3 linked regions of the Homo sapiens genome follow. The protein of the gene in region 1 interacts with the protein of each later gene in a pairwise test. Each region holds a gene or a part of one and is shown in the gene's direction. Other genes may lie near its edges. The genes, in order: IMPA2, UBA3 and SLC44A3.

Region 1 (7,110 bases):
CCTTTCAAATCCCCCCGCGGAGCTGAACCAGCTTCTGTTGGGCCAGAAACTTAGACAATTTAGGGGGCCCTCTTTAAGAAAATACAAACTTTGCCAGATGTGGTGGCTGAAGCCTGTAATCCCAGCACTTTGGGAGGCTGAGGCTTGTGGATCACCTGAGGTCGGGAATTTGAGACCAATATAGTGAAACCCCATCTCTACTAAAAATACAAAAACTGTGGCCGGGCGCGGTGGCTCACGCCTGTAATCCCAGCACTTTGGGAGGCCGAGGTGGGCAGATCACAAGGTCAGGAGATCAAGACCATCCTGGCTAACACGGTGAAACCTCGTCTCTACTAAAAAATACAAAAAATTAGCCGGGCGTGGTGGCGGGCGCCTGTAGTCCCAGCTACTCAGGAGGCTGAGGCAGGAGAATGGCGTGAACCCGGGAGGCGGAGTTTGCAGTGAGTAGAGATCGTGCCACTGCACTCCAGCCTGAGCGACAGAGCAAGACTCCGTCTCAAAAAAAAAAAAAAAAAACAACAAAAATCAGTCGAGCGTGGTGGCACACGCCTGTAATCCCTGCTACTAAGGAGGCTGAGGCAGGAGAATCCCTAGAACCTGGGATGTGGAGGATGCAGTGGTGAGCCTAGGTTGCACCACTGCACTCCAGCCTGGGTGATAAGAGCGAAACTCTGTCTCAAAAAAAAAAAAAAAAAAAAAAGAGAAAATACAAAATTACAAATTCAAACTTAGATATAAAAGTTATTTAGAATAAGAACAATCACATCTATAAATTTCTAAGGTGCTAAGAAATACTGCAAATATCACGAAATACACAAAAATAACAATTCTTTCACTGCTTCTCATACTTCCGTAATACTTTTTGCCCTTTTTCTGGTTTCATACTGTTTGCATCTTTTGAATGATAATGATTTTGTAATACTTTATATGGGGAGAATAGAAAGATAAATTCAGCATTTCCTGTTGCTTGGCTTATTGAAATTTATTACTGATAATTTAGAAAATTTAGGCTTCAAACTTGTTACTGGTAACAATTGGCTTATAAATTTTTAGGATGTCATCAAATTGAGAACCTTCTATGAATTTTTTTATACATTAGTTGTAAGTGAGTCTGTTTTTCACAGACTTGCTCCTGGCTCTGTGCAGTTGAAATCTGGTTTATTTTTGTGATCCACACATTTTCAGTGCCAGTGTCTGTGTCCACCTCATGTGCTCCTCTGGTCCTGTATGTTTTTGTCACCATGCCAGGTGGGTCGGCGTGATGGACAGGGGAGTATGCCTGGAAGCCCTTTCTACACTGGATGGCTCTCAGTAACTTACAGAGAAATGTGACTGCAAACCCTATTGAAGCAAAGTTAGTTCATCTACTCAGCTTATCTTTAGCCCACACTGGCTGTATCCACGCCAGTGCCACCTGATGCAAAGTCTGATGGAAGGACAGTTTAAGTGGAAAGGCACAAGGTTAGATCTACAGTCAAAACAGCTGACTTTTGCCCATTACAAAAGGGGTTTGTGTACGGCTTTGTGAACACTTTGTTAGGGTCCCTTGCAGGCAAGTGGGGGCCTTGATGCTTAAGCGTCATTAGCTTCACAGGAAATTCATCTCTGTTTACTTGTAACAAAATCTCAGGACAAAGCAGAAAAAGAAAAACCCAGCACTGACCTCAGGACCGCAGACTTCCCCCTTCTCTAGTTGGCCTTGCACACCCTTGCAGGTTATGCTTCCCGAGGCCCGGCCTTGCGAAGTGAGCCTGTCGTCCCCTTGTCCGGCCAGATCTGGTCGCTCTGCTTGGTGTTTGCAAAACACATGTTGTATTTTCTTGCCTTTCTTCTGGCCTATGGAGTATGCAAACCATTGCCTGTCTCCAGAGCCCGGCTCCTGAGCCCCTTCCTTCATGGACCGCTTCTCAGGTGGCCTTCCCTGTCTTTCCAGTGCCCCACCTGGTCCTGCTGAGCTGGCACTCCTCATGACTTTATTTATCCTTGCCTGGTGGTGTGCCCTCCACACAGTGGGTCCTTGGAATATGAATACTCTTTTGTCTACCTCTGGCTCTTCAGGGCAGAAGGCACATTGGTGGGCTCTGGACCCGTGTCCCCACTTGTCCATCTGGCTTTACCAACACAGTATTGTTTTGATTTGTGATTTTCCTTTTTGCTGGTTATTCACACCGGGAATTTAATGAGTGACGTAACACTGAAAGCACATGATGAAGAACAGCAGCACCTGGCCCACACTCCTCACCCCTTGTCCTGTGTCCGGAGTCCCTGTTCTCAATTTTCTGAGAGTTACACCCATTTCTAAGTAATATGCTTCTGTCGTGCTTTCTTGAGTTGTTCATTGTTGACAGAATTATTCTGTGTTACGCCGTGTAGTGGCCCTGCCCGTGTGGTTCTGTGGGTGTCCATGTCCATGTTCGGATGGCCATGCAGATGTAACTCATGGTTCAGCCCGGCAGTGTATTCCTTTCTTTCTAATGCAACTTGTATTTTCGTTAAAGAATGTTTTGTTTTGTTTTGCTTTGCATTTGTCTAGTTTTCTGTATACCTATTGTGAGCCATCCATCTTCCCAGCAGGATTTTTCATGATCTCCTTGGTGTGGTCACACTCCTTGGGTCGCTGCTGTGGAGCAGTGCTTCTCCAGCTTTGGCTGTGTTGGAAGCCCAAGAGGGCTTATTAAGGCAAATGGGGTCCCACCGCAGGGTTTCTCATTCACTAGGTCTGGAGTGGGCACCAGAATACGCATTTCTAACATTCCCAGCTGACATAGATGCTGCTAGTCTGGAGTGGCACAATGGGAACTTCCGCTGCATGGTATTTTATTATGTGAGTACATCACTATTCATTCAACTGTTTTATTTATTATTTATTTTTATTTTTTGAGACGACGTCTAGCTCTCTCGCTCAGGCTGGAGTGCAGTGGCGTGATCTTGGCTCATCAAAACCTCTGCCTCCCGAGTTCAAGTGATTCTCCTGCCTCAGCCTCCTGAACAGCTGGGTCTACAGGCATGCGCCACCATGCCTGGCTAATTTTTGTATTTTTAGTAGAGACGGCGTTTCACCATATTGGCCAGGCTGATCTAGAACTCCTGACCTCAAGTGGTCCACCCGCCTTGGCCTCCCAAAGTGCTGGGATTACAGGCACGAGCCACTGCGCCTGGCCTCATTCAACTCTTGAGCAAACTGGATAATGTCCAGTTTGAAGTTAATACGGGTAACGTTGCTGTGAACTTTCTTGCACATGTCTTTTGATTATGTGTGCATTTCTGTTGGGGATTTATTAATAGTAGGAGTAGAATCGCTGTGTCATTGGGAATGTAAATTCTGCCAAGTAGTTCTCTAAAGAGGATGTACCAAGTTACACTCCACCCTGCAGTGTGTGAGGGTTCCCTTTTCCCCACGTCTTCCACAACATGTGGTATGGTCTGTCTTTTATATTGTAGCCATTCTGATGGGCTTGAGTTGGTATTTTATTGTAGTTTTAATTTGCGTTTCTTAGATAATTAATGAAGTTAAATGCACATGTTTATTGGCTTTTTTTTTTTTTTTTTTTTTTGAGACACAGTCTTGCTCTGTCGCCCAGGCTGGAGTGCAGTGGTGCGATCTCAGCTCACTGCAACCTCCGCTTCCCGGGCTCAAGCAATTCTCCTGCCTCAGCCTCCCGAGTAGCTGGGATTACAGGCATGTGCCACCACGCCTGGCTAATTTTTGTATTTTTAGTAGAGATGGGGTTTCACCATGTTGGCCAGGCCAGTCTCAAACTCCTGACCTCATGTGATCCACCCACCTTGGCCTCCCAAAGTGCTGGGATTACAGGCGTGAGCCACTGTGCCCAGCTGTTTATTGGCTTCTTTGATATTATTTGCTTTTAAAATGATGGTAATAACACATTGATTATAAATTTATTCATCCAACAAAGAATCATTAACAACTCAGGAAAGGACTTTAGCCTTTTTACTCTGAATGTGAGGGGAGGTTTGGGGCAGAGTCTTGTGTGGGGCTTTATAGGACTCTATATAGGGGACCACCCTGGCTGCTGCATGAGGTCCTTTGTGGGACACTAGGGAGACCAGAATCAGGTATCTGATAGGAAGCCACGTGAGAAATGAGGGTGGATTTGACTGGGGTGCATGAAGAAGGTGGTGAAGAAGATTTACTTTGGAGGCTGAGATGACAGCCTCTGAGTTGGATGTGGGGTGTGAGAGAAAGAGAGGAGCCAAGGGTGACTTCAGGGGTTTAGGCCTGAAAAGCTGGTTGAATGGATTTGCCACTTTCCGAGATGGCAAAACTGCAGGAGGAACAGGTTTGGAGCTGAGAGTCGAGTGTTCTCTTCTGTGCAGGTTAAGCTCGAATTGCCAGTAGATTTCTTATTTTATTTTTTTGAGACAGGGTATCGCTTTGTTTCCCTGGCTGGAGTGCAGTGGTGCAATCACAGCTTCTACCTCCTGGGCTCAAGTGATTCTCCCACCTCAGCCTCCTGAGTAGCTGGGACTACAGGCATGTGTCACCATGCCTGGATAATATGTATTTTTTAATTTTTTGTACAGACGGGGTTTCACTAAGTGGAGATGTTGGATTTGCACCCAAGCTGACGGCAGAGATGCAGTGTGGAAGTCATATTCCTGGAGATGGTATTTAGGGCCATGTCCCGGACAGGAGGAGAGCAGGCTTGGCCACTGATGGGCTTTGCCGTCGGATGAGCTCAGGTCAGGCTCCCATTTTCCTCCTTGGGAGCCTCACAAATGCCAGTTTGTGGAGGTCATTTCTGAAGTGGTTCATTTCTCCAGAAAAGGCTTCCCTGCTCTTCCTGCCTGGGCTGAGCGCACCTGTCGCTGGAGGAAGAGGAGGCAGGAGGGGGAGAGGAGGCGGTGGTGATGGCCTCCAGCTCCTGCCTCGCCTGGTCCACACCTGCAGTGTTTGCTTAGCTCTGCAGGGTGGGGTCAGCCTACGTGAGAAATTCGAAAACTCAACAACATTTCAAACATCAGCAGAGACAGAATTCCTGTGAGACAGCAGCTGGCAGGCACAGAGTAGCAGCTGTCCCTTTGGTGGGGTGGGGGTCGGTACATGGTCTCCAAGGGTCCGAGGCCCACTGCTCCTGACCCTATCTGAGAGGTCCCTATCATTTCCTACCCATTTTGCTAACAAAAGCTGTCTCAGAAGAAGGGGGAGGGCAGAAGGCACTGCCCTTGCCTCTGGGCAGCCTCATCCCAGCCCTTGGCACTCCAGGGTGCCAGTGAGGTCCCACCTGTGCCCCCTTAAGGAGAGGCTGGTAGATGGCTCATCCCCACGGGGAGAGTGAGTCCTGGACTCTGTGGCCCTGAGCTTGTCACTTGCTCACCCCAATGAAGCGCTGCCCAGGGGAGATTACTGTCTTTGGAGTTTGGGGCAGGAGGGTGGGTGAAATCACTCAGCCAGAGGATGGAGAGGCTGCTAGTGAGATACAGGCCCCCTCCTCGAGCTTTAGGGGTGGAGGAAGGCAGGAGCTCAAAGGCATGGGGAGCTGAGACATTGAGAAGGAGAGGGGAGTTCCGGAGTCTAGGCCCCTCCCTCTCTCCTGGCCTCCTCCTGGGCCCAGTGGAGACAGGAGCCTGGAGCCTGGTTTGCGTCTTCTCTCTTCTGTGGGAGTGAGGGAAGGCTTTGGTCTCTAGGCTGAGCCAGTCTCAGGATCCTGTGTCCGTTGTCCCAGCTCTGCCCTAGCCTGCCATGAGCGCTGCAGGAGGCCTTCTGCAGGCTGGCGCCCTGCCCCTGGGCTCACCTTTCATGTGAGAGATGGAGGAGGTGCAGACCTGGCCAGTCACTGCAGTGTGCAGGCGGACTGGGAGGCCATCCCAGCACCTGGGATGTGGACAGCTTCCTGGAAGAAGTCACAGCTGAGTGTGTCTTTAGAAAAAAAGCAGGAGTCAGCTAGGAAGGTTAGGTGATGGGCTTGGGGAGGGGAGAGAGAAGAGGAGGGGTCGGGGCCAATAGAGAAGATGAAAGCAGAAGGGGCAAAAGAGAACATAGCACCAAGGACCTCCAAGAAATGCACTTTGGCTAAAGTTTGAGGTGGGAGAGGTCAGGACTTGGGGGCCCCGTGTGGAGGGCAGAATTGCAGGTGGGTGTCCTGCTCGAACTGATGGGGTGTGGCCCTTGGGGGCTGTGAGTTGGGGTGGACTTGATGAGTCGTACATTGAAGGAGACATAGGAATAAAGGACTTCTGGGTTTCTGGCTCATGCAGCTGGCTGGCTCTCATTGCTTTTGAGAGAAATGTGAGCTGGAGAGGGATTAGGAAGTAATCAATTGTGACGGCTCCAGCCGTGGGGTCGGCTCTGTTTAGCGATGGTGGACTTGGACTGTGGTGCTGGGAACCCCTTCCCTATACCTTACAGCTGCAGGGCCTTGGGCAACTTTCTCCATTTCTTTTTGCCTCCGTTTCCTCATCTTTAACGTGGAGAATAATTTTTGCTGTCCTCAGAGTTACTGTGTGGAATAAATGTACATGTGAACTGCTCAGAACAGCACGGGGCAGAAGAAGCGCTCTGTAAGCTTGAGCTCAGGCCGTGGAGCTGGGCAGGGTGTGAGGTGGAGGCCATCTCCAGGAAGCTCAGCTGCTGAAGGCAGGTCCGAGGGCTTGCAAACACCCACTTTCAAGGAATAGTGGGAGGGAGATGAGCCGCAGAATGGTGGGGAGATAGGAGGAAAGCCACGAGGGGAGGCAGGGGCCACAGGCCACGGGCCCTGGAACACAGGGAATGCAGCTGGGATGTGGGTGACGGGTGGCTGCTGGCATTGGTATGGAAGGTGCCAGTGCCTTGTCAGGGCGGAGGGCGACTAGAGATCAAGGTGAGGGGAAAAATAGCCACGAGACTAAAGGAGGCGTTGAGGATTCGAGAGCCTGAGGTGGGCTGGCCTGGGAGCCACGTCTGCTTGGACCAGCTCCTCCTCTTCCTCCCAGGGTTGAGGTTGTACAGAGATTTGTGACGCATCAACAGCTGTGAACTGCTGACCACATGTGCCACATGACACCATGTGATAGGCGTGTTATTACCTGGGTACCCGATGAACTGTTAGGTTTTATTGATTGTCACACGTATCAGGTTCTTCAGAGAAACAGGACCGGCAGGAG
Region 2 (7,110 bases), on another chromosome or scaffold:
TTTTTGGATAGGCATAAAACCTCTACATTATCTTTGTGGAAGATCTTAATGGGACTGAAGTATGGATTAAAATAAGTTAATGAAGTGTTGTAATTGCAGTGTGACCCTTAATGTTTAACTTTTAAGCTTTATTTTTTGTTTATTTTTTAACCTTTGAAATTTCCCTTCTCTATAGCAAAGTTTGTGGGCTCTGTCCAGCTTGTCAAATTTTGAGTTGTGAATTCTCTGAAAAAGATACCACTGAATTGATTTGTTATTGATACAGGCCATACCCTTTAATTTGTGGCTAAAATGGTTGAAGATGGTAATAACGATATGTAGCAAGTACTTCTAAACTATCCATATTATTCCATTTAATCTCAGCAACCTCAGGGTAGGTTCTTGTGTTCAAGGTTAAATAATTTGGGCAGAGTGTCCTGCAAGGATGATGTGTGTGAAAGGCCATTTTATTGAGGTGGAGCAATCTGATTGTTTCATCCTGGAATGGTAAATTAACAAACAGTTCCCAGAAACCATCTAGGAGTTCTTTTGTTTGGGCCGTGCCATAAAAGCACATAGAATATATTACTTAAAATAATCTTAGAAGTCTACTTTATCCCTTTTACAAACCAAAAGAGCTTTCTGTGTGTGGAGCCATTGAATGCAATACTGAAATTAAGTTCTTTGATTTATAACAGGGCCTTTTTTATGTAAGTTAGTACAAAGTGAAGATAAAACATTTACCAAAAGTTTTGAATCAAAAAAGAACAGTGCTTTATTGGAGAGAAAAAAAATTGGCCTGGCATGGTGGCTCATGCCTGTAATCACAGCACATTGGGAGGCTAAGGTGGGCGGATCACTTGAGGTCAGAAGTTCGAGACCAGCCCGGCCAACACGGTGAAACCCTGTGTCTACTAAAAATACAAAAATTAGCCAGGCGTAGTGACTCATGCCCGTAGTCCCAGCACTCTGGAGGCTGAGACAGGAGAATTGTTTGAATCTGGGAGGCAGAGGTTATAGTGAGCCGAGATTGTGCCACTGCACTCCAGCGTGGGTGACAGAGCGAGACTCTGTCTCAAACAAACAAAAAAAAAGAAAAGAAAAATTGACATGCTAAAGTGTTTTTCTTTGAAATTTCAGATTTTTTTCTAATAAGCACACGATTTATTATTTTCATTTATTTTAAAAGTATTTACTGTGTGCTAGGTAGGAAGGAATATGAAGAGAGTAAGAACATGGTCACTTTCATCCAAATAATAGTCTAGTGGGTATGATAGACGTGTATGTAGCAAATATGTTACGAAAAAAGTAATAATGTTCTTATTATATACATGGAGTGATTTCTCTGAGGAGAATATGGAAATATTAGGAAAGAAAATACCATTTGTATAGAACTTAGAGGAGGAAATTCATATCCTTTCCTATCTATATGTGTGGTTATTGTTTTAAGAGTGACCTTTTGAGGCCTTATATATTCAGCTTCTGTGATGTAATAGTAACATTTGCAATTTTAGCTGACACTTTTGGTATTATTCTTTCTTTAAAAACTTGGTGCCGGGCATGGTGGCTCATGCCTGTAATCCCAGCATTTTGGGAGGCTGAGGCGGGCAGATCACCTGAGGTCAGGAGTTCGAGACCAGCCTGACCAACATGGCAAAACTAAAAATACAAAAACTAGCTGGTTGTGGTGGCAGGCACCTGTAATCTCACCTCCCTAGAGACTGAGGCATGAGAATTGCTTGAACCTGGGAGGCGGAGGTTGCAGTGAGCCGAGATCGCACCACTGCACTCCAGCCTGGGTGACAGAGTGAGTGAGACTCCGTCTCAAAAAGAAAAAAGAAAAAAACGTGGTTACAGCCTCTTTTTTTTTTTTTTTTCCATTTTATATACGGTCCAGTGAAATTTTTTTTTTCTTTTTTTTTCTTTTTCATGCAGCTTCTTAGGGGACACAAAATTTGCTGCTTAATCAGCACACACAGGAAGAAGGGGTTAAATGAAGGTTCTTGCATCCCAAGGATGAATCTTATTGTGTATATTTCAGCCAAGACCTGTGGAGTAACACCATAAGGTTCTGAGCTCTAAGAGTGGGATAATTTTTTACAGTGGAAAGTGGCCAGGAATCATAGCATTATTATGCTTTATCTGGGAGGAAGAACACTGTTCAGATTTTCTCTTAATTAAAGCAATACTTAATTAGACTTATGTTAATTTGGACCATTAGCAAGGGTTGACATTTAAGGTTAAATGACCGTTTACCAAAAGTTATTACTGAAATCAAAATACTTAGGCAAAAATATTCCTTCTAAATTTCCTATAAGTAAACTTACTGTGAATTTACTTTTATGTTTGAAAATAAGTTATGTAGATCATATAGATTTATAATATGAATTATAATTTAAATATTTTTCCTGTAGGCCTAAAGATATTGGAAGACCTAAGGCTGAAGTTGCTGCAGAATTTCTAAATGACAGAGTTCCTAATTGCAATGTAGTTCCGTATCCTTTTGACAAAAAGAAAATTACTTAATTTTTAAAAGCTTTTTTCCTTTATTATAAGAGATATTTAACAGAGAATACAGATAAGCAAGAGGGAAAAAAAGTCAGCAGTAGTAACTTTATTACTGAGATAACTGCTGGTAACATTTTGCTATCTATTCTTCCAGTCTTTTCTGTATGGTTATATAAATATTTTTTGGGCCCTGATTTTTAACTTAAGTTTATAAAGCCTGTTTCATCATCTACTTTATTTTGCATTATTGCCCTTAATTTCAGTATCAATTACATATCTCCTTTACTAGAGTGTAAATTCCTAGGCTGGATCCAATTAATCTTTGTTTCTTTATAGTAGCAGACAGAGTAGACAGTCAATATAGTATTAGCCAAATGGAAGGTACATCACAGTAAATTTATTTTTACAAGAAATATGTTTTTAAAAAGGAGTATTTACACTGTAGTTTGAATTTAGATCTGGAGAACTTTTGGCATTTTATAGAAAGTCAGAAGATGTGATTTCTATGTAGAAAGTCCCACAGAATACAAAATCAACATACCGGTGAACTTGTGAAAGTTAATGTAAAATACAATGCCATTTACAACTGCTTAGAAAGAAAAATAAATACTTAGATGTAAACTACAAGATAAGTAAGAGATTTATATAGTGAAAAACTACAAAATGCTGATGAAAGAAACCAAAGAAAATCTAAATAAATGGAGAGATAGTCCATCTTCAAAGATTGGAAGATTAAATATAGTAAAGATGTCATTTCTCCCTAAATTTGTATACATATATACCATAGTTTCTATTAAAATCCCAGCAAAATTGTCGATATAGACGATCTTCTAAAATTTTATATAGAAAAGCAAAGGAATACCTACTACAAATCTGAAAAAGAAAGTGGGAGGAATCACTATCCAAATTCTAGACTTATATAGCTATAGTAATCCAGACTCAGTGGCGTTACCAGAGGGATATATAGATGACTAGAACAGAATAGGGAAGCCAGAAATAGCCCCATATAAGTATGGCCAATTTGTTTTTGATAAAGGTGCAAAACAGTTCCAATGGAAGAAGCATAGTCTTCAACAAATCGTACTGGAGCAATTTCATATCCATAGTTAAAAGATGAATTTTGACCTAAACATACAAAATTAACTCAAAATGGATTATAGGTGTAAATATAAAATATAAAATGAGCCAGGCGTGGTGGCTCATGCCTGTAATCCCAGCACTTTGGGAGGCCGAGGTGGGTGGATCACTTGAGGTCAGGAGTTCGAGACCAGCCTGGCCAACATGGTGAAACCCCGTCTCTACTAAGAATACAAAAATTAGCCGGGCACAGTGGCTCCCAGCTACTCAGGAGGCTGAGGTGGGAGAATCGCTTGACCCTAGGAGGCTGAGGTTGCAGTGAGCTGAAATTGCGCTACTGCACCCCAGCCTGGGCGACAGAGCAAGGCTCCATCTCAAAAAAACAAAAAAAAACACAAAAAACCATAAAACGATAGAACTTTAGGGTTTGGTGGAGAGTGCTTAGGCCACGTCAAAAGCAAGACCTGTAAAAGGTGGGGTATGGTGGTGCAGATCACTGAGGAAGCAGTGAGCTTTTATCATACCACTACAGAGTCCTGGCTGCTTGGGAGGCTAAGGTGGGAGGATTGCTTGAGACTAGGAGTTTGAAGCTATAGTAGGCTGTGGTCATACTGTGAATAGCCACTGCATTCCAGCCTGGGCAATGTAGTGAGACATCATCTCTAAAAAATTAAAATAATTTTTTGTAAAAGCATGAGCCATAAAAGGAAAAAATTGATACACTGAACTTCATCAAAATTAAAAACTTGCTGTGTGAAAGACCCTCTTAAACGGATGAAGAAAAGCCACAGACTGGAGAAAATACTTGTAAAGCATCTGATGGAGGACTCATATCTAGAGTATATAATGAACTCTAAAAACTCAACAGTAAAACAAAAAAAAATTCAATTAGAAAATAGACAAAAGATAGGAAGAGATATTTTACTAAAAAGGATGACGAAAAGCACATGAAAAGATGTTTCACATCAAACTAAGACCACCATGAGCGATACTGTTACACAACTATTAGACTAAAAAAAAAAAGCCAGTCTCAAAAGGTCATATACTGCATGATTCTGTTTATATAATACTCTTGAAATTACAGAATTATAGAGATGGCTGGGTGTGGTGGTTCAGGCCTGTAATTCCAGCACTTTGGGAGGCTGAGGCGGGAAGATCACTTGAGCCTGGTTGTTTGAGAACAGCCTAGGCAACAAATGAGACCCTATTTCTGTAAAAACTAGAAAAATTACCCGGGCATGGTGGCACATGCCTGTAGTCCCAGCTATGTGGGAGGCTGAGGCAGGAAGATCAGTTAAGCCCAGGATGTGGAGGCTGCAGAGAGATCTTTATTGTGGTCGAATAGTTATGTGTGTTGCCTGGGGTGGTGGTTACACAAATCTATGTGTGTTTAAATGACAGAATTATAAACACACATTGTACCAATGTTCTGTTCATGGTTTTGGTACTGTACTATAGTAAGATGTAACTGGGAAAGGTGCATGGTACCTACCTATACTATCTGTGCAACTTACTGCGAATCTATATTATTTCAAAATAAAGAGCTTAAAAATGCAAATACAGGCCCCTGTAGGGAAAAAGGAAGAGTTGGTGGGGGTGGGTTGGTTAGTGGGGGGCACTCAGTTTGTCTATCCCCATTATGTGGGTCTGGGAAACTTTGGGTATTTTCTAGAAATCCAGATTAGATTTCTTAGTCTGGCTCTTGGTTCCCTGATTGCCATTCCTCCACTGTTTGCTTTGTTTCTTTTTTGACCTCTTTCTAGCTGTAGCTTCGTTCTCCTGCTTGCCTAGCATTCAAAGGGAATAGAGGTCTGAATGACTGAGGGCTAGAATTGAAATTATTGTTCATAGCTTTATTTGTAGGCAAGAATTAAAAATCTAGAGGAAGCATGTATTGTCCCTTTTTTCTATGTATTGTCCCTTTTTTCTCTGTATTGCTTTTAAAAAATTTATAGTGGACTATTTATCTTAACTTTAGAGAAGTTGCATAATTTATAAATTATTAAACAATTGCTCCATTCATTAGAAAAATTAAAACAAGTTTTTGCACACATGTGCTATTAAAACATTAAGTGCTATATTGACTCACCCACAATCAGTTTTGAATGGAGTTTCCTTTTTAGCCTCCAGGGATGGGAAGACTGGTAATAGGATTTGGTAGGGTAACTTGAAAACTGAGTTAAATGAGAAAGGTAGAAAAAATTCGTACTTTTTCTCCTCCCCACAAAAAATAAAAACAGTAAAATCTTTACCAACTGAAAAAGCTGTTGAAATTTTCTGTATGTTAAAAAAATGAGCTTTGCAGTAACTCTTAAAATCACCTAGCAAAATAGGAACTATAATGTGCATCTTTCCTTCACTAAAACATTTATTGCATCTCTTCTTGATGCTGATGATTGAGGACACACATTCTGCTTTCCTGGGGCTTATGGTTTTATATAAAAACCAAAGCAAAGTAGAAAGTATACCTCCTACCAAGGGCATAAATATAATGATATAGGGGTTCAGGAATGAGAAAAAGTAAGTAGTTAGGGGAGGAATGGCAGAAAAGTTTTGTCAGAAAGGAGAGTTGTGTTCATTTAGTCAGATTCCTTGAATTCCACTGATGTGAACATTGATTACTTATTTCTTGTTGTAAATATATGCAGAGTGTGTTCCTTATGGCATTGTCAAATTCATTTTAGAAATTAAAACTTAGCTGCTTAAGTTCCTTTACTTGTATTCAGACATTTCAACAAGATTCAAGATTTTAACGACACTTTCTATCGACGTAAGTTTTTTACTTGAAATTAATGCTCACTAGATTCTTAGAATTTTTTAGTTGGTAGCTATTCAAATATTGCTAGCTATTTCAAGGCTATTTCTTCACTTGCTTTCCTCTCTCACTGTTGGCTTTTCAGTAATGTTGCTGATAGACTGAAAAGAGAATGCTAGTTTTAGCTGACATGACCAGCTACAAGTTTCTATGCTTACCTGAATGAGAGTTCACTCAAGGAATTGGAGCTCTGAGAACGTATGTGGGATTACAGTAAAAAGTGCTTGTGGTTTTTTTGTTGGTTTCTTAGAACGTGCAAATTGTTTTCTGCAAGTGCTTTTTTTTTTTAATTAGTAAACTTTATTTTTTAGGGCAGTTTTATGTTCACAACAAAATTGAACAGAAAATTTTTGAAAACTTGGGTTCTCATAGAGCTTCCTGTTCCCACAAACACACTACCTTCCTAATCAACATCTTGCACCAGAGTGGTACATTTGTTGCAGTTGATGAATCTACATTGAAAGATCATCATGCAACTACATATTTAAAAACTAAAGTTGCTTTTTTTTTTTTTTGTAGAATTTCATATTATTGTATGTGGACTGGACTCTATCATCGCCAGAAGATGGATAAATGGCATGCTGGTAAAGACTTTAGTATTGTTATAGTTCTCTGAAGTTCTTGCTGCTGTGCTTCACATCCCCAAAATTAGAATTGATATATTTTTGAAAAATCAGAGTTTAATTTTTAATTAAGTATATTTACTTCATTGTTTATTGCCAGTCATTGGT
Region 3 (7,110 bases), on another chromosome or scaffold:
GAATTTATGGATACATTCATTAGCTTAACTGTAGCAATCATTTCATGAAGTTTATATATATCAAAATATCACATTGTATACCTTAAATATGTGCAATTTTTATTTTTAAAAATGTTGCTCCCCAAGTTTAGGTTTTTGGTTTCTGTGGGTTCCCATAATCAACTTCCTATTCAGAACATCAGCTAATCGATGTAGCAGAGCATACTTGCCTGGCTTTCTAAGGTGTGCTCTGCAAATGGCATGCTAGACGCCTCTCTATTACTGTAGTTCTTAAGCTTTTTTGGTTATTGAGAATGTTAAATAAACATCTTTTAAAGATAAATGTTAAATAAACATTTTTGCCATCTTTTTTTCTCTATTTTTAGCAAGTCATTTCCCTTATTTAACCGATGTGTCCCTCAAACACCTGAGTGCTACTCCCTATTTGCATCTGTTTTGATAAATGATGTTGACACCCTCCACCGAATTCTAAGTGGAATCATGTCGGGAAGAGATACAATCCTTGGCCTGTGTATCCTCGCATTAGGTAATTCTCAGTTAAGTTAATTTTAATAGTTGTTTATGGAATGCCAAAGTTCCTAGCATTTTATATGTTGTACAATGAAAATTAGCCTCTTGTTTTAAATATAAAACTCTGTATTTTTAATAGATATTTTCAGTGTTTCAGATTTAAGTGGGATGGGGGCAATACGAATAGAGGAGCGGCTGGCCCTCTGGCAGAAAGCCTCAGTGGGTAGGGTTGCCTTGATATACTGACTATGTTCTAGTGTCTGCTCCTCACTGGGGATGGGTATATAAAGCAGATTGCCAATTTGTGGATGGGACATGAAAAATACAACTGTCAGGGTGACCAGAAACCATGTCTTCTGGCCAAACATGCCTCCACCTGTAGGTGGATCAGAAAGCAGATCAGAAAGCTGCTTGGTGAGCAGGGCAAGGACATGTATGCATCCATGTTAAATGGAGTCAGACTGCAAGGGCCTGCTGTATCCTGCTCCTCTAAGGGACATACCTGCTTTGGGTTGTAGACAGGTCAAGGCCTTCAGCCTTCTCTGGGCATTTCTGGAAGCAGCTACCCACTCTTGATCTTTTGAGTTCCCATTTTCTATGTTTCAGTTGGCTGAAATCAAGAGCCAACTTTCTCTTTGAACAGGTGAATACACTCTGCCCCTTTAGACAGTGGTAAGAGCCTATTGTCTCCTCGCTTTCCAGTGGCAGCCCACAAACCTCTTGGTAGAGAGAAACTCTTTGGTCAGACATTAACATATTTCTAACAGTTAACAAATTGAGTTTTCCACAATTTCATTACTAAAAGGTTCCTAATTCCTGAATGCTTGGGGATATTTAACTAGTCACTATTATGACTTTCAGACTTCTTACTTAGGCTGAAAATGACTTCAATTGACTCAAACAAGATGCTTTGACTCCCAAATACTGGCTTGGTTACAATATATAACAAAAAAACCTCAGGTTATTCCTGATATCTTATATAATGACCTAATGTCCCTGCAAGGACATTGTCATGTGCTTATTAGATTCATAATGGTATTAACAGCTGTCGTTTACTGAGCACTTACCATGTGCCAGGCATTGTACTTATTCTTCACTCATTAAAACCTCATCAGAATCCCAGTACCACTCATAGGAGATGAAACTGAGGCTTAGAGAGGTTTAGGACTTGGCCAGTGTTGCACACCTAGGAGAAGAGGTGGCAGAACTAAGACTCAAACCCAGATCTGTGTGGTCCCAAAACCCACCTTACTAAACATAACTCTGATCTAGATGCAATCCTGATTTCCTATGTCGAAAATAGTACATACAGCTTATTTCATGGTTAGGATCTTAAATTCTTCATTTTAAAGACATTATTAATCTTTCATATTTAATAAGAGTACCTTAGAACATGTAAAGTTAGAACTTTACATAAGCCCAGTATGAAGTCAAAAGATTTAAGTATGATAATTTTAGATGGTTCATTTGGACTTGTAAGAAAAAAAGATTTGGGCATTTGAGAATAATATTGCTATAAAATTTTTTTTCTTTCTTTCTTTTTTTTTATTGAGACAGAGTCTTGCTCTGTTGCCCAGGCTGGAGTACAGTGCCATGATCTTGGCTCACTGCCAACCTCTGCCACCCGGGTTCAAGCGATTCTTGTACCTCAGCCTCCCGAGTAGCTGGGATTACAGGTGCCCGCCACCATGCCTGGCTAATTTTTGTATTTTTAGTAGAGATGGGGTTTTGCCAGGTTGGCCAGGCTGTTCTCGAACTCCTGACCTCAGGTGATCCACCCGCCTCGGCCTCCCAAAGTGCTGGGATTATAGGTGTGAGGCACCATGCCCGGCCAAATTTTTTTTATTTTTGAGAAGAATACTAGGACTTTCAGAGACAGGCTTACCACACTTGATTGAATGGTGCATCAGAGACTGCCCCACGTATACCTTGTTATTTTTATTTAGTGTTTAGTAGATATCCCAAGATATTTAGAGATTGAATACAATCCTCAGCCGTCACTGTTCTGGAGGGTTTTGTCATCGCAGTACTACCATCATCTCCCCTATCCTTTGTTGCTATTGAGGTTTATGTGTTTTGCTTAATTTTTCAGCCTTGTCTTTGGCCATGATGTTTACCTTCAGATTCATCACCACCCTTCTGGTTCACATTTTCATTTCATTGGTTATTTTGGGATTGTTGTGTAAGTATTTCTCTACTTGACTGATTTCTTTTCGATTAAATGAAAAGCCTTTACATTAAGTACAGAACTTAAAAGTTGGCATTTTTAAGCTACATGGAGTCTTAAAGAGTATCTAGCCCTGTCACTTTACAAATGAGAAAACTTGGCCTCAGGGAGGACGATGGGAGTTGCTATGTCTCACAGACAGTGCAAAGTTAATGACCAATCTTTTTTTTCTTCTTTCTTTTCTTTTCTTTTTCTTTTTCCTTTTTTTTTTTTTTTTTTTTTTTTGAGGCAGGCTCTCACTTTGTTGCCCAGGCTGGAGTGCAATGGCGCGAACGCAGCTCACTATAGCCTCAACCTCCTGGGCTCAAGCGATCCCCCTGTCTCAGCCCCCCAGGTAGCTGGAATTACAGGCACATGCCACTACACCCAGCTAATTTTTGTATTTTTTGTAGAGACGGGGTTTTGCCATGTTGCCCAGTCTGGTCTCCAACTCCTGAGCTCAAGCGATCCGCCCACCTTGGCCTCCCAAAGTGCTGGGATTACAGGTATGAGTCACCACGTCCAGCCATATCTGTAGTTTCTTCTGCTGTGCTATGCTGCCCCTGAGATGAGCTTTCCAATACCGTGATCCTGTATCCATAACGTTAAAAGAGAATCCCAGTACCCACTGGGAGCATTTTAAAGGATTTCTTCTGAATGCGCACCTCACCCATTGGCACGTGGGTGCCCACAGTTGTCATGTAAAGGTTCTGACCAGCCAGAAGACACACAGGCCTGCATGGAAGCAGAGTCCTGGAGACCCTGTACTGTGCCCATATTTCCCTCCCGGTTGCTGGATTGTGGATCTCACCAGCAGTTGTTGGGAAAGAGGTCCGAGGGACAAGGGCACGCAGGAGGCTCAAGGCAGCAGCCATTTACCAACTGGTGTGGGGTACAATCAGGTGTCACTTAATGACAGGAAGGGATGTGTTCTGAGAAATGCATCACTCAGCAATTTCCTCATTGTGTGAACATCACAGGGTGCACTTACACAAACCTAGATGGTAGAGCCTACTACACACCCAGGCACATGGTATAACCTATTACTCCTAGGCTACGAACCTGCACAGCATGCTACTGTACAGAATACGGTTGGCAGCTGTAACAGAATGGTCAGTATTTGTGTATCTAAACACATCTAAGCACAGAAAAGTACAGTATTATTAATCTCATGAACCACCATCATATATGCAGTCCATTGTTGATCAAAATGTCATCATGCAGTGGATGACTATATTTTAATTTTTAAAAACTGATGTGATTGTCATGTTTCTTTCCCCTGAGTCATCAGCTCTGCCCTCAGCAACTTAGAGCCCTGTAGCCCTGTGTCGGAGGACAGGCACAATGACTTCTGAGGGTTGTTTCTTCCTGTCCACTCCAACCTTCCTATAGTTACTGTGGATATGGCATAAGGTGGTATTTCGTACCTAAATGTGGAGTACTTGCAATGTCAGGGCATCTTCCAAATGAGCTTCTGACTTCCATGATTCCCACAGGCCGTGTAAATTTTCCTGGTTTTGTGGGTGAGCAGCCAATATCCAGGCTCCACAGGAGTTATCACCACCAGAGCTTGCTTAAAACATTTAGACAGTGAGCTCTGGCATTGTCCCTCTCACCATCCTGTCCATGGGGTTTTCCTCCTGCTCGCATCCAGACCCAACCTGTGGGTTAGGTGCCTGTGTTCTGGGGTCACCATCCTGGGTCTCCCAAAACAAGCATCATCCCAGAACTTGTGGGTCCTCTATGGGTTGCCCTGGCTCTGCCCAGCTTCTCCAGAGGGCAGCAGTTGCTTGTAGGGTCCGGGTATTTGGGACCCACTGCCAGAGCAGTGCCACGCGGCCGGTGGGCAGTGGCTGGACTTCCTGTGTGATTCTGTGTGCTGGGGAAAGGTTACCTCATGGCGTGTGCCCTGAGCTCTGCTACTGTTCTCTTTTCTAGTTGTCTGCGGTGTTTTATGGTGGCTGTATTATGACTATACCAACGACCTCAGCATAGAATTGGACACAGAAAGGGAAAATATGAAGTGCGTGCTGGGGTTTGCTATCGTATCCACAGGCATCACGGTAAGAAATGCTCTTCTAGCAGTAGGTCAGGTAGCCAGCCAGGACTCTGAAATCCAAATCATTGAATTCTAGCCAAAAACAACTATAATTTGTTTTTCTTTTGATTTAGAATGTGCCTTCTTTGGATTTGAGATACCTGTATAGGGATAATTCAAAACTCTTCAAAAATAAGAAAAAAAGGTTTTAGTTCTTCCCAAGTCATTTCTGCCACCTCCCAGAGACTACTGTGTTATCCTTGCTGTTGCACTGTTCTCAGCCCCAAGGGGCTACAAGGTGGGCATGGTGGGTGGGCGGAGGCAGGCTTACGGCAGTTCCCATTCCCTGTTTGTGAGGTGCGGCTCCCCTTTGCCAGTGTATGCTCAGCTTCCGCTGCCCTCTAGCACACAGAGCCCTTTGTTTCCAAACCCGCTGGCCACTGGGTTATTTTGGTGTTCAGAGAACTTGCTGCCTCCTCAGTGAACTCTCTAGCTGAAAACAGGCTGACTTAGAATATTGAGGGAGCAGGTATTAGTTACTGGTGGTGGGTGGTTGGCAACCAAATGTCATTCAGGACCCTCTCCAGGGGCCGTTAGGAAGGCTCAAATCACAAGGCCCTGGGGCGGACCCCACACTGGCTTCAGGTCCCCCAGAGTCGTCGTTGCTGGTGTGTTGCTTACTGACTGTTCTGTGGAGCAGCTGCAGCCAGGGGTTTCCACAAGCCCATTGAATCTTGCAGCAAATGCAGATTCTCACACCAACAAAATTCTCTCATAGGAAATCCTTCTATTCTCATATTTGGTAGTTTTCACATTTTCTCCTTTCCACGGTGAGGTTTTGGGTTTGTGATCTTCACATAAAATGTGCCAGGGAGTAAGGGTACAATAAAGTAAAGCACCTGGTTGCTCTCGCCTCAGGCAGGGACCAGACCAGACACTCAACAGAGTCTGCAGAGGAGGCTGGAGATGAAAGGGCTTCCCCATTCCCCAGGCTGGGCATAGGGGAAGAGGAGCAGGGCTGGGGGCTGGGGAGGGTCCAGTTCCTCCGTCTACCCTCCACAGGGCTCCCTTTTTGTTTGTACACTGCACCATTTATGCCACCCAGATTTCAGGGCCGGGGCAAGGTTAGGGAGAGGGGAGGCCATGTGAGCAGGGAGGCTGTTTTCACCTGGGTCCATGAGTTCTGCACAGGGGCTACTCTATAAGGCAGAATTGAGTCCCAGCTCACCTCCCGTTCATTTGTTGTGAGTTCTTACCAATTCCCGGTTGCTAGATGAGCTAGTTCACTCATCCTCAGAAAAGCCCAGATGGAAGTTCCTCCTCAGCCTTTACAACTGAAGGGTCTCCTCTGGGTGTCTTGCGGGGCCTCTCCTGACACCTCTCCCTGCATGGTCAGGAGGCTGTGCTCCCAGATCCTGGAGCAGCTTCTGCAGTTTATCCACTGTCACTGTCTTTCCTCCACTTGACTGTTGACGGCAGAAACGCTCCAGCAAAGCTGGAAGAGAAAGAGCATCTCAGGCCAAGGGCACAGCATGCATGAGGTCACATGGGCAGGGGTGTGACTTGCAGGAAGTTCCCTTGATGGAAGCCTGAGATGCAGGTGCAGGGAGGGTCATGTCACAAAGGTCCTGATCTGCAATGATGATAGGTTTGATCTTTCTCCAGAGGCACTGGGGTGCCGTAGATGGATTTTGAGCCGAGAAACACCATCTTTGTGTTTGCGCTTTACAAAGGTCCCCTTAGCTGTGGAGTGGAGGAGGGACTGAGGTGGGGCGGGGTGGGGGGGGTGGTCAGGGAGGTTAAATGCAGAAAGCTAATGAGGTTATTGGGGTCTAGAAGAAAGAGGCTGAGACTTGAGCTGTGGCATCAGCGGTGGAAACAGAGAGGAAAGGAAGGCATGAGCGGTATTGAGGAAACTGAACCAGAGGTGATTGAGACTGTACTGGGCACTTTGCCAGTCCTTGACCATAAGAATGGCCCTGCTCTCTAGGAGCCTAATCTAATGGGAAATTCAGACGAGAAAACATTTATAGAATATGTTAAATAGTACAATAGGGTAAGTGTGGAATAAAATGGGAGCACACAAGAGGGGAACCTAACTTACTCTTGGAAAGTCTAGAAAAATTAGGGCCACTGGAGGTAAAGAATACAGGGGGAAGAGGAGGTTCTAGTATGAAGATAATGAATTTGATTCAGGATAAATTGAGTCTGACATACTGTAGGACATCCACGGCCTTGTCAATAACTGATGTGCTTATTCTTCCAGCACCTAGAGGAAAGTGAGGCTGGAGGTTTTTATTTGGAGGTTGTCAGCATCTAGGAAGGATGCTGAAAGCACAGAGGAATAGGAGATACC

The links.
Region 2: the proteins of IMPA2 (region 1) and UBA3 interact in binary tests that used the Homo sapiens proteins (3 or more experiments, as listed by UniProt).
Region 3: the proteins of IMPA2 (region 1) and SLC44A3 interact in binary tests that used the Homo sapiens proteins (3 or more experiments, as listed by UniProt).

Annotation. Positions count from the first base shown.
Region 1 is NC_000018.10:11,984,467-11,991,576, forward strand, and holds part of IMPA2 (inositol monophosphatase 2), read left to right. Parts: intron 1-7,110. UniProt on the Homo sapiens protein: Phosphatase that can use myo-inositol monophosphates, myo-inositol 1,4-diphosphate, scyllo-inositol-1,4-diphosphate, glucose-1-phosphate, beta-glycerophosphate and 2'-AMP as substrates in vitro.
Region 2 is NC_000003.12:69,063,292-69,070,401, reverse strand, and holds part of UBA3 (NEDD8-activating enzyme E1 catalytic subunit), read left to right. Parts: intron 1-2,393; coding exon 2,394-2,474; intron 2,475-6,290; coding exon 6,291-6,334; intron 6,335-6,898; coding exon 6,899-6,963; intron 6,964-7,110. UniProt on the Homo sapiens protein: Catalytic subunit of the dimeric UBA3-NAE1 E1 enzyme. E1 activates NEDD8 by first adenylating its C-terminal glycine residue with ATP, thereafter linking this residue to the side chain of the catalytic cysteine, yielding a NEDD8-UBA3 thioester and free AMP.
Region 3 is NC_000001.11:94,837,346-94,844,455, forward strand, and holds part of SLC44A3 (choline transporter-like protein 3), read left to right. Parts: intron 1-365; coding exon 366-526; intron 527-2,602; coding exon 2,603-2,692; intron 2,693-4,654; coding exon 4,655-4,779; intron 4,780-7,110.